Regions from separate parts of the Homo sapiens genome. Here region 2 is linked to region 1. The links come from fine-mapping of genetic effects on gene expression. A gene starts in region 1. The other region holds a variant in brackets. All regions are shown on one strand. Distances are from middle to middle.

Region 1 (5,381 bases):
CGTGTGCATATACAGGTTAGGGGCATGCTAGGCACACATTCCAGTTTCTGTTTGAATGACTGGTCCTTCCTCCTGGGCCCTCACCACAGACCACAATCCCCACCTGGGCTCTGCCACCCAGCCGACTCCATTCTTCTGCCTTTCCAGGGAGGAATCCTTTCTTGCCCTTCTGGAGGAACCCTATCCCTGTGAAAGCAGGGAAAGCTGCCCATCCTGGTGAAGAGCTCACTGTGTTGGAGTCCTACATTCCCAACAACTGCAGGTCAACACACAGGAGAAAGAACAGGCAGTGGACTTTTTTTTTTTTTTTTTTTTGAGACGGTGTCTCGCTCTGTCGCCCCGGCTGGAATGCAGTGGCGCGATCTCGGCTCACTGCAAGCTCCGTCTCTGGGGTTCACACCATTCTCCTGCCTCAGCCTCCCGAGTAGCTGGGACTACAGGCGCCCGCTACCACGCCCGGCTAATTTTTTGTAGTTTTAATAGAGACGGGGTTTCACCGTGTTAGCCAGGATGGTCTCGATCTCCTGACCTCGTAATCCGCCCGCCTCGGCCTCCCAAAGTGCTGGGATTACAGGCGTGAGCCACCGCGCCCAGCCACCAGCAGTGGACTTTATCCACAAGGCTCGGCCTCTGTCTCTTCATCTGTAAAAGAGGACAGTTTTTAACCTTCACAGACGGCTAATTTTTAAAACTTCACAAAACTGTGAGGTTCAACGGAAATCAAAGTGCAAAAGGCAAAAAAAGCCAGGATGTGCGCACACCTGTGGCTATCCTCCCAGCGTGTTAAGGTCCTGAATCTGGCCACATTCATCTCTGCTCCTCTAGCACGGAGTGTGCACCCCGTAAACAAATGACGAGACTGAGGAAAATAAAGACCTGACACATAGCTCCGTGCCACTCTGTGAAGATGCGTGCCGCTTTCATCAAGCACAAGCAGGTTAAGGATATCTGTTGCCGCCACCTTTGGGAAGCGCAGCTGTGGTGATCTGCGCTACCTGCCATCGGAATCCCTGCGGCAGGGCAGGGCCAAGATCTCAAATCGAATGACATGGAAGGAGCTAGAATACAAATCCCGAAGAGCCTGCGTCCCCGGCTTGCTAAGGTCTGGCAGGCCCCTCTGTGGGGCGGACGTGGCACCCCAGACCTGCCTGCAACACCGCGCAGCCCGCCCGCCCCCGAGAGCGCGGTTACCGGGAAAGTCACACTTGTAAGGGCGCTCGGGCTCGAAGTGGCTGCGCTGGTGGGAGCTGAGCTTGGCGTGCGTGGGGAAGCGCTCGGCGCACACCTCGCACTTGAACAGGCTCTCCTGCTCGTGGCCCTTCATGTGCGCCTTGAGGTTATAGACCGTAGTGAACTTCTTGCCACAGCCGCCCACTGGACAGCCGAAGGGCCGCAGCTTGTCGTGCGACTGCAGGTGCCGCTTGAGCTTGTAGGACGTTGTGAAGGCCCAACCACAGCCCTCCAGTGGGCACTTGAAGGGCCGCCGGCCCTGACCGCCGCCGTGCGTGAGCAGGTGCACCTTGAGCTGGTGCTTCTTGGCGAAGGCCAGCGCGCACTGCGGCTCGGGGCAGCGGTAGCCGGGCGTGCTGGGGCCGGAGGCCTGGGGCGCGCGGCGGGGAGCGGCGGCGCCCGCGGTTGCGGGGCCGGGCGGCGCAGACAGCGCGAGGACGCCGCGGTCGAGACGCACCAGCAGGTCCTGGCTGCTGATGGTGACGGCGCCCGCCGGGGCTACGCCAGGGCCGGGGGGGGCGGCCGGGCCGCTGGGGCCCTGCTCGGGGCGGCTCGCCAGGTTGACACGGGAGCCAGGCTCGGCCTCCTGTGATCCGGCAGCCTCGGCGGCAGCGCCGCCGTGCGGCACTTCCAGCAGCACCAAGAAAGAGTCGCCGTCGCTGTCGTCCTCGGCGGGCGGCGGGCTTGGCCCGGAGGCCTCCCCGGGCCGCGCCCCGGGCCCGCCATCTTCAGGGCCCCGCACCAGTAGCAGGCGGCGGCGCGCGGGGCTCGCGCCGAGCGGCGCTGGGGCTCGGCGGAGCGGGCCGGGGCCGCCGCCATGTTGCCCTCCGCGCGCAGTCGGGGCGGGGAGCAGCGCCGGGAGGTCCATCTTGGTCCCAGCGACGGCGTCGGAGCAGCTTCGGACGCAGAGCTGCCCGCGCCCCGCCCAGGTGTGCGTGCGCCGCCCCGGGACGCGATCCGCGCCAAGCCCCGGCGTAGAGTCCGGCTCGGAACCGCGCGTGCGCGGACGCCGCCGGGCGATGCGCGAGGCCTGCTGGGCTGACGTGACGTGAGGCTGGGCTGCGGGGCGCCGGAGGCGGAGGCGGGGGCGGGGCGCCGGGACCGACTAGGGCGGGGCGCGGGGTCGGGGGGCGGGGCGCGGGGTCGGGGGGCGGGGCGCGGGGTCGGGGGGCGGGGCGCGGGGTCGGGGGGCGGGGCGCGGGGTCGGGGGGCGGGGCGCGGGGTCGGGGGGCGGAGCGCCGGCACCTACGAGGGCGAGCGGCGGGGCACGGGACCGACAGGGGACGGGGTGAGGCTCCCAACGCTGAGCGATTCCTTCTCGTTCCCGCTGGCGTGGAAGACGAGGCTTGTCTTGACTTCGAATCGTATTAATATTTCAGACACTTAACAGGCAACCTCTCGTAGGCATTGACTGCGTCCCAGGGGCTGTACCTGTCCGAGCTGATTAAGCGTGCGCGGTCACCCAGGGGTGAGGAAACAGGGACGGCGAGCTCGAGTCACTCGGCAGCCGGCAGATCCAGGATTCGAACCTGTCCAACAGGCCGGACGCCTACCCCCAGCTCACTTAAGTGCAAGCTCGCCTGCCGCCGCTGGCGCACAGACCTCGTTTGCTTTGGCCCAGGTCCTTGCTCGGCACACGGGGCCTCCCTGATACGCAGGACCCCTGCCTGTATTTCCAACTGTATTTCCTACTAAACTTGGCACAACCTCACTCTGCAACAGCTTAATTACTTACTGTTTCCGGTCCTCACCCTCCCCCACCTCACCGTACACCTCCGCATTCAATCTGGACTCCTCCACTTCAACTTCACCACCACTCAGATCCAAACCCGCACTTTATTCCTGGGTACCTGAAAAATAACTACTAGCTGGTCATCGGTCTCCCTCCGCTCCACTCGCTCCCATCCACGGGGCACCGTTTTATGATCTAAAAATTGCACATCAAATTATGCTCACCTCCACCTTGCTCCCGAAGGCGCCTATGGCCTTGCTAGTCTACCCTCCCCTACCTGTTTGCCCTCACTTCCCGCCACTCTCCCGCTGCCCCCCCCACCCCTCCCCCGCACCCCACCTCTTTTTCCCAGTTCATCCAGCAAGCCAAGCTGGTTCCAGCCTCAGAGACTTGGCGCAGCTGATCTCTGATTCCTCTGGGAGGACTCTGCGCCCCTTCTGATCCAAAGCACATGCTTACCCAGTCCCGTATTCCCACCTCTGTCTGATCTGTTTGCTCTTAGAGCTCTCATCACCCGTTGTTTTGTTGAGTTCCTTCCCTGCTCCTTCACTGTCTCTCCCTCTCTGGAATGTAGGCTCCTGGAGCCCAGGAACTGTGTCCTATTCACTGTGTGTGCCCAGGAAGACTCTTGGTGCATATTTGTTAAATACATGAATGCTTTATTATTAAGAGTATTTTTTTAAGTAACACAAATTATAATATTAAAAAGAATAGGATACATCTATTATATATATCAGTTTATGCCGAAAACATATTGTTCCTAGACCATTCAGTAGAGGAAAGAATAGTCATTTCAATAATGGCGGCACTGGGACAACTGGATCTCCACATGCAAAAGAACCAATTTGGACGTGTATCTCTCATCAGAGGCAAAAATTAACTCAAATTAGAGCAAAAGCCTACACGTAAGACATAAAACTATTTGAAGAAAAGTAGGTGTAAATCTATGTGACCCTGGATTAGGGAATAGTTTCTTAGATATAATATTGAAAGCACAAGAAAGAAAAATAGATAACTTGGACTTCATCAAAATTAAAAACTTACTCAGGTAAAAGGACACCAATAAGACAGTGAAAAGACAACTCAGAATGGGAGAAGGGTGTGCAAATCGAATATCTGATAAGGATCTACTATCTGGAATATATAAAGAACTCTTAGCAAGAAGACAAACAGTCCACTTTTTTAAAAGGCAAAGGTTTGAATAGACATATTTCTCCAAAGAAGATAATACAAACAGCCAATAAGCAAATAAAAAGAGGCTCAACATCACGAATCATTAGGGAAATGCAAATCAAAACACAGTGAGATACAACTTCACACCTACTCAAATAGTGGTAATTTTTTTAAAAACAGGATATAGAAAAATTGGAACTCTCACATATGGCTGGTGGGAATGTATAACGTTGCGGTGTGGAAAACAGTTTGGCAGTTCTGCAGAAAGCTAAACATAATCTCCACATGACCCAGCAAGTCCATCCCTGTGTTGCTGAGGCTGGAGTGTGGTGGCTATTCACAGGTGCAATCATAGTGCGACCTCCAACTGGCCTCAAGCAGTCCTTCCGGGTCAGCCTCCCAATTAACTGGACTACAGGCATATGCCACCATGCCCAACTTGTTGCGCAGCATTGATTATGCCACATTCTCGTGATCAAAGAAGTCATAAGACACTGCAGACCCAGGCAAGGGGAACTTGTACTCCACCTCTCAATGGGAGGTGCTGGAAAGAATTTGCAGCCATTTTTAAACTATCACAACTTCTCTGTGCCTCAGTTTCCTCATGTGTAAAATGAAGGGGACTGAGAAAGAAAAAGGGCAGCCCCTGCCATCCAGAAACTGGCCGGGTGCTACAGCTGGGCCACTCTGTTCTGTAAGACTTGAACCATCACGCAGAAAACCAACCTAGGCCAAGGTCACTGAAACACAATGACATGAGACAAAGCAAGGCCACTTCATGATGTGTCTCCACCCAGATAAAGCGAGGTCACTTGCTGTGCCATTTACAAGATACCCAGCAGCCCCTCTCTCAGCTAACGTGAGCAGCCGCCGCTTTTGTACCCCTGACAGCCTGTCTGTCTGTGTGCTTCCCTCTCTGTATATAGGATTTAGTCAGAAACCTAGTCATGGTGTTGACCCGATTTCTGGTAAGAGCCAATCCAGAGCAAATCCCCGCTTCCTAAGACTCCCCCACCCAACCAAAGCTCAAATCTGATACTAGGTTGTTTCAGATACTAGGTTGTTTCAGCCTTCTGCTGAGATACCCTGAAAGGAGCAACAGGACTCCTGGCGAGGGTCAGACGCGCCACTTCACCAGGTGGGCTTGAGTCAGCTCAATGTGGTCATCCAGTGGGGCTCAGGCAGAGACTTGAACTTGGTAGTCTCAAAGGAGTGCCCCAAATTACAAGGACCACAGAGATTGTGC
Region 2 (5,381 bases), 23 kb before region 1:
ACTGTCCCATGGAAAGGAAAGGGACTCAAGGCCACTCCTCATCACCACCTGAGTCCCTCAGGCCCACCAGGCCACCCCAGGAGGAACAGTGCTCTATTGCTCACCATTTTGATGGTAGCTCCATCTTCATGTTTTAATTACACAAAGTATTTTCCAATAGAAAAAGTAGAAATGATCATAATAAAACATTCACAATCTTAACACTCAGGAAAACACCACTTCATGCATGCATATGTGTACTACTGCTTGTTTCCAGGTAAATGTACACAAAAATTTGTCTCTCAACACACCCACTTTTTCTTACAAATATGAACTTACTGAAAACATGCACAGAGTGTACAGTTCTTCTGGACATTTGAGTTACAAATATTATAAACAGTCCCGCACTGAGCAGCAGCAGCATGTGCAGCTTCACACAGATCCCTGGGATTTCCTTGAGATAAATTCAAAAAATGTAATTGTAAGACTGAATATTATGCATATTTTTTGGCTCCTGAACACATTACCAAATGACCCTCCAAAAACATCACAGAGTGTCCCCAGTGAAGCTCTCCTGAGAAAGCACAAGGACGCGCTGTGTGCACCAAGGCCGGCACTGGGCTCCTGTCACCTGGGAAGGCCTAGCCGACCTGGCCCTCAGTCAGATCTACCAATGTCCTTGTGAGCACCAACCGGCTGTGTCTCGCTCGTTGCCATCCTCCTCATGACCTTCTGCACCATGATCTCACGCTGTTACTGGTGATCTGGAAAGCTCTCTGTGCGGACGTGTCTCTGTGGCTGTGCCTCTGCTGATACACTCTGGGAAATGATTTAACCTTGGGGCCTCAGTGGCACCCGTGCAGGAAGGGTTGATGGCAGGTCTCCACCTCATAGGGTTTTTGTGAGGCGTGAACAGAGTTACTGCATGTGAAGGACACACGACAAAAAGAACAAGGGCAGGCTGCCCCCACAGCTCTTCATGCCTTAGAAAAACCTTTAACCTCTCATCTTCATTCTTTATTCTGTATGGAATTCTAATATTTTTTTTTCCCTAAAAGGCCAGCATTCACCTGTCAATAACTGGAAATGCCATCTTTTCCACACGCAAAGATGACCAGGTCCCAGGTCGGTGCCCAGTGCGCTGGATCCTGGGCTCCTGGCTCTGCCACGCAGCCCCAGCACCAGAACATGCTTTCAGCTGCCACAGCCTTGCGTGAAGTCTTAGCTACAGTGCAAATCCTCTATGTCATTTTCCGTTTTCTTAGACGTTCTTGTCCATAGCTTCTTACACAATTGTCCTGGAACCTGCTTGGACTTCTGCATGAAATCGCACTACAATGCTGTGGGAAGAGTGAGAGGCTTCTCTTTCCTTCATCCCACGTCTGTCAGCCAAGCCTGTGGGCTCTGCCATCGAGACAGGTGCAGGAGCCGAGCACTCCTCCCCACTGCTGTTGCCACTCTCGTTCCTAACAGGTGAGCACACAGGCTTCCAACTGCTCTCCCTGAAACCTCCCATCCATTTTGTAAATCAAATACAGGATTTGTTGAGAGAATAATAAAGTTATTCACCGATCTATTATTGAGATAATGCAATTAACAGATTTCGTAACATTAAATCATTCTCAAGCTATCTGATTAAGCTCCATTTGGTCAGAATAGTACATTAAATATATATATTGCCAGATCCTAAGTGTGTTTTATTTAGAACATTTCCATCTATCTTCGTAAGAGTCACCAATCTGCAGTTTTTCTTTTTTTTTTTTTTGAGACAAGGGTCTTACTGTCACCCAGGCTAGAGTGCAGTGGCAGATCCTAGCTCACGACAACCTCCATCTCCTGGGCTCAAGCGATTCTTCCGCCTCAGTCTCCCCAGTAATTGGGACCACAGGTGTGCACCACCACGCGTGGCTAATTATTATTTTTTTTACAGATGGGGGTCTTACCACGTTGCCCAGGCTGGTCTTGAACTCCTGGCCTCAAGCAATACTCCCACCTCAGCCTCCCACAGTGCTGGGATTACAGCTCTCTTTCTGAGAGATACCCTTGTCAGATTTTTCATGGGAAGCTTCTGTTTTCCACAGAGCTTTGGAGCAGCATTTACTGCACAAATTCCACAAAGGGGGAGAACTGAGGAACTATTCATATTCTTATTTCTGAATGATTACTTGTTTTCCTAGAAAACTCTGCATTTTGTTGCAAGTATTCTAACTTATTATCATACAGTTAACATGATATCTGTTTATCTCTAGGTATTCCAAAGAATTTGTGGAATTTACTTAATGCTTTTTTTAATTGCTCAGACAGAAAAGGAAAATGAGGGCCTAGGGGCCATATCCCCTTAAGGATATGTTTTCTTTGGCCCATACCAAAAGTTTTTCTAAATCTGAATAAGCTGTCACATTTAAGCATCAAAATCTGGATTTGACTCTGTTCTGATAGGAAGACATCTGAGGCACAAACTTGCATTTAGTTTTGGCTACATCCCTTGTGTTCCATATACAGTAATACATAATAGTTGGCTTACACATCAAGTGTTTCTAAGACCCTCACATGTAATCCACAAGAATCCCAAGTGCAGCGTGCTTCTATTACCATTTCACAAAGGAGAAAGCTGAACGTGCAGGGAAGTCACTGGCTCAAGAGCTCAAACTTATAAACACATGGCCTATCCATTTTCCTGTATTTGTAATTAGCTTTTATTTTTTTTCTTTTTTTTTGGCGAAGGAGTTTCGCTCTTGTTGCCCAGGCTGCAGTGCAATGGTGCGATCTTGGCTCACTGCAACCTCTGCCTCCCGGGTTCAAGCGATTCTCCTGCCTCAGCCTCCTGAGTAGCTGAGCTGGGATTACAGGCATGAGCCACCGCGCCCAGCCTCGCTTTTATTTCTTCTTTCACCTGATTGTCTAGAGGTTTTGTTTTCCAAGTAATTTTTACTAATTTAACATATTATGATCAGAAAACATAGTACTGCCTATACATGTATATATATATGTGTACATATAGGCATATATATATATAAGCAGTACTATATATTATGTATATATATAGGTAGTACTACACATATATATATAT[A/AT]TTTTTTTTTTTGGTAAAGACTTTTGTATAGTTTTCCTGATGCCCTAATTTGTTCCATTTAATTTCTATAAATATTCAAAGGACATGGAATAGGATCTGTTAAATCAACTTTATTAATCCCATTTTAAATATCTTTCATATGCTTATTTTTCTGCTTGATCAGCAAATAATGAACTAATCACTTTCAAACTGCTAGTTTCTATACATTCAATTATCTGAGATTTCTATTGGCTTTTACATTGTTTGATATTATACGTTTTCAAATAAATATTCATATAAATGTCTATAGGTCTTATAGTTCTGTTGTAGGCTACACATGAACAGCAACCAAAAAGAGGAAAAATCTTCTTTGTCCCCATGCTTTTTCCTTGAATTCTGCACTTTTCATATTAACATTAGCCCTTGCTTTGTGATTTGCCTTTGCTTTATTTTACCCTGTCTTAATCTTAACCTTCCCAAATATTTCCATACAGGGTGCACCTCTCCTAGACAACACACAGCGGAGAGTGTGCTTCCCATGTATTCAATCTTCGTCTCTTGAAAGGAGAGGTGCCCTCATTACACTTCACTGTGACACAGGATACCCTTGGTTTTCTGTCACAATGTGTCTTGCTGCTGTCTCCTCTGATAAGCACCACACTTTCTTTCCCTTCTCTGCCCTTAGACAGCAGAAAGGTATACATACCCATTTATAGTTCTGAAGCTGTTCACGTTTTTAAGCTTAACTTTGCTATTCATTTCAAGAATAAAACTTGACATTTTTACACTGAGAGAAAAATTCTTGTTTTATTCTAAGGGGAGAATCTCAATACTCAAGATAAAGAAATTCACACATTTTATTTTCTACACTCAACAGCAACACAATGGGAAGAGTCTTGGATTTCAAATGCTATTGCTCAGACTGTACATTTCCTAAGAACTGACGTGTGCACTGGCTCCTAACCACATGCACAACAGCGAAGTCTTGACTGTTTCTAAATGACCCGATTCCATTAACAGTCCTGTTACACTGCAACTGCTGTTCTTGGACTTATTACAGGTCCATAGTCTCTCAATCACAAATGTTGAAACCAAAAAATCCCAAACCCAATTTTTTTTCCCTAAACTTAATGCCAAAAGTAATTTAGCAACATAACTGACCTGAACTGATGTAAAGCTATTTACAGTCTCATTTGATCCCACTTAGATATATTTTGCTGAAAAGTACCAATGTAGTAACTAGTGGTATTAATAATATATGTACCATATTATCTAAAATTTGAAATAGCCTGAATCCAAAGCACAGCGTGGGTTAACATACATAAATACTAGCACTGACCACTGAAACCCTAGTATAACAAAACCCCAGTAACAATAAGTCCACCGAGTGTCTGCATGTTGGATTCTATATACCATCCTCTAACAAAAGAAACCAGGGCTCTCTGGAGGAGGAGTCGATTCCAGGGCAGGGACAGGGATAATACAAGAGCCTGGTGGTGCTAGGAAGGAAGGAAGTGCTCAAAACAAAAAGCCAGGATGGAGAATGTTGATGGGGCACAAGAATCCAACTGAAGGATTGGCCACAGCTGGAAGAACTGGAGCAACAAAATAAATGGTGATAATATTGATCATAATCCAATACTGACTACAGCCCAAAGAATCAATATCGTTGAGGCCGGGCATGGTGGCTCACGCCTGTAATCCCAGCACTTTGGGAGGCCGAGGCGGGCGGATCACAAGGTCAGGAGATGGAGACCATCCTGGCTAATACGGTGAAACCCCCGTCTCTACTAAAAATACAAAAAAAAAAAATTAGCTGGGCACGGCAGCGCCTGTAGTCCCAGCTACTCGGGAGGCTGAGGCAGGAGAATGGCGTGAACCTGGGAGGCGGAGCTTGCAGTGAGCCGAGATCGCGCCACTGCTCTCCAGCCGGGGCGACAGAGCAAGACTCCATCTCAAAAAAAAACAAAAAAAAAAGAATCAGTATCATTGAATCCATACTGCGAATAAGTAAATGAGGGAGAAGAGACAGCTCTTCCTTATAAAATTAATAAGTACACAAGAATAAGGGAAATGGAAAATCACCATTAAACCCCACAGGCAAAAAGCCCCTGCTGAGTGTTACATGAGAGGAAAGCTTAAAGAGAAACAGGGCACTTGCAGTGCAAGGCAAAGGGTTAACCCTGCCAGAGAGGCCTCGCCTCTGCCCCCAGCTCCTGGGAGATCTCTAGACCCTTGGAAAGTCCTGCCTGGTAAGAATGTCTGTCTAACTGGGTGCCCTGGGCCACTTCCACAGTCTGTGCTAACCCTGTGGTGGAGGCCTCGGGCACACAGCGCCAGCTCAGCCTCTGGA

Which allele goes with the higher level. Alleles are on the strand shown, and positions count from the first base shown. SD is a standard deviation of normalised expression in the study named.
As copies of A replace AT in region 2, the expression in monocytes after Pam3CSK4 of the gene that starts at base 2,124 in region 1 goes down (large effect, 0.77 SD a copy in Quach 2016).

Evidence for each region. PIP is the estimated chance that this variant, and not a neighbour inherited with it, causes the effect. A credible set is the group of variants that fine-mapping cannot tell apart.
Region 2: its variant is the best candidate, but not a certain one, in a credible set for the expression of ZXDC in monocytes after Pam3CSK4 (Quach 2016, PIP 0.77).

Annotation. Positions count from the first base shown.
Region 1 is chr3:126,473,768-126,479,148 of GRCh38, forward strand. ZXDC (ZXD family zinc finger C) reads right to left here and starts at 2,124. Exons shown (of 10, transcript NM_025112.5): 1 at 1,192-2,124. The coding sequence starts at 2,098. RefSeq lists an enhancer at 471-996 and silencers at 1,554-1,813, 1,884-2,393.
Region 2 is chr3:126,451,015-126,456,395 of GRCh38, forward strand. The region is part of intron 7 of ZXDC (ZXD family zinc finger C); the gene reads right to left. Among named protein-coding and RNA genes, the nearest start is that of ZXDC, 22 kb to the right of the region's middle. The variant A/AT (reference allele first, on the strand shown) is at 3,050.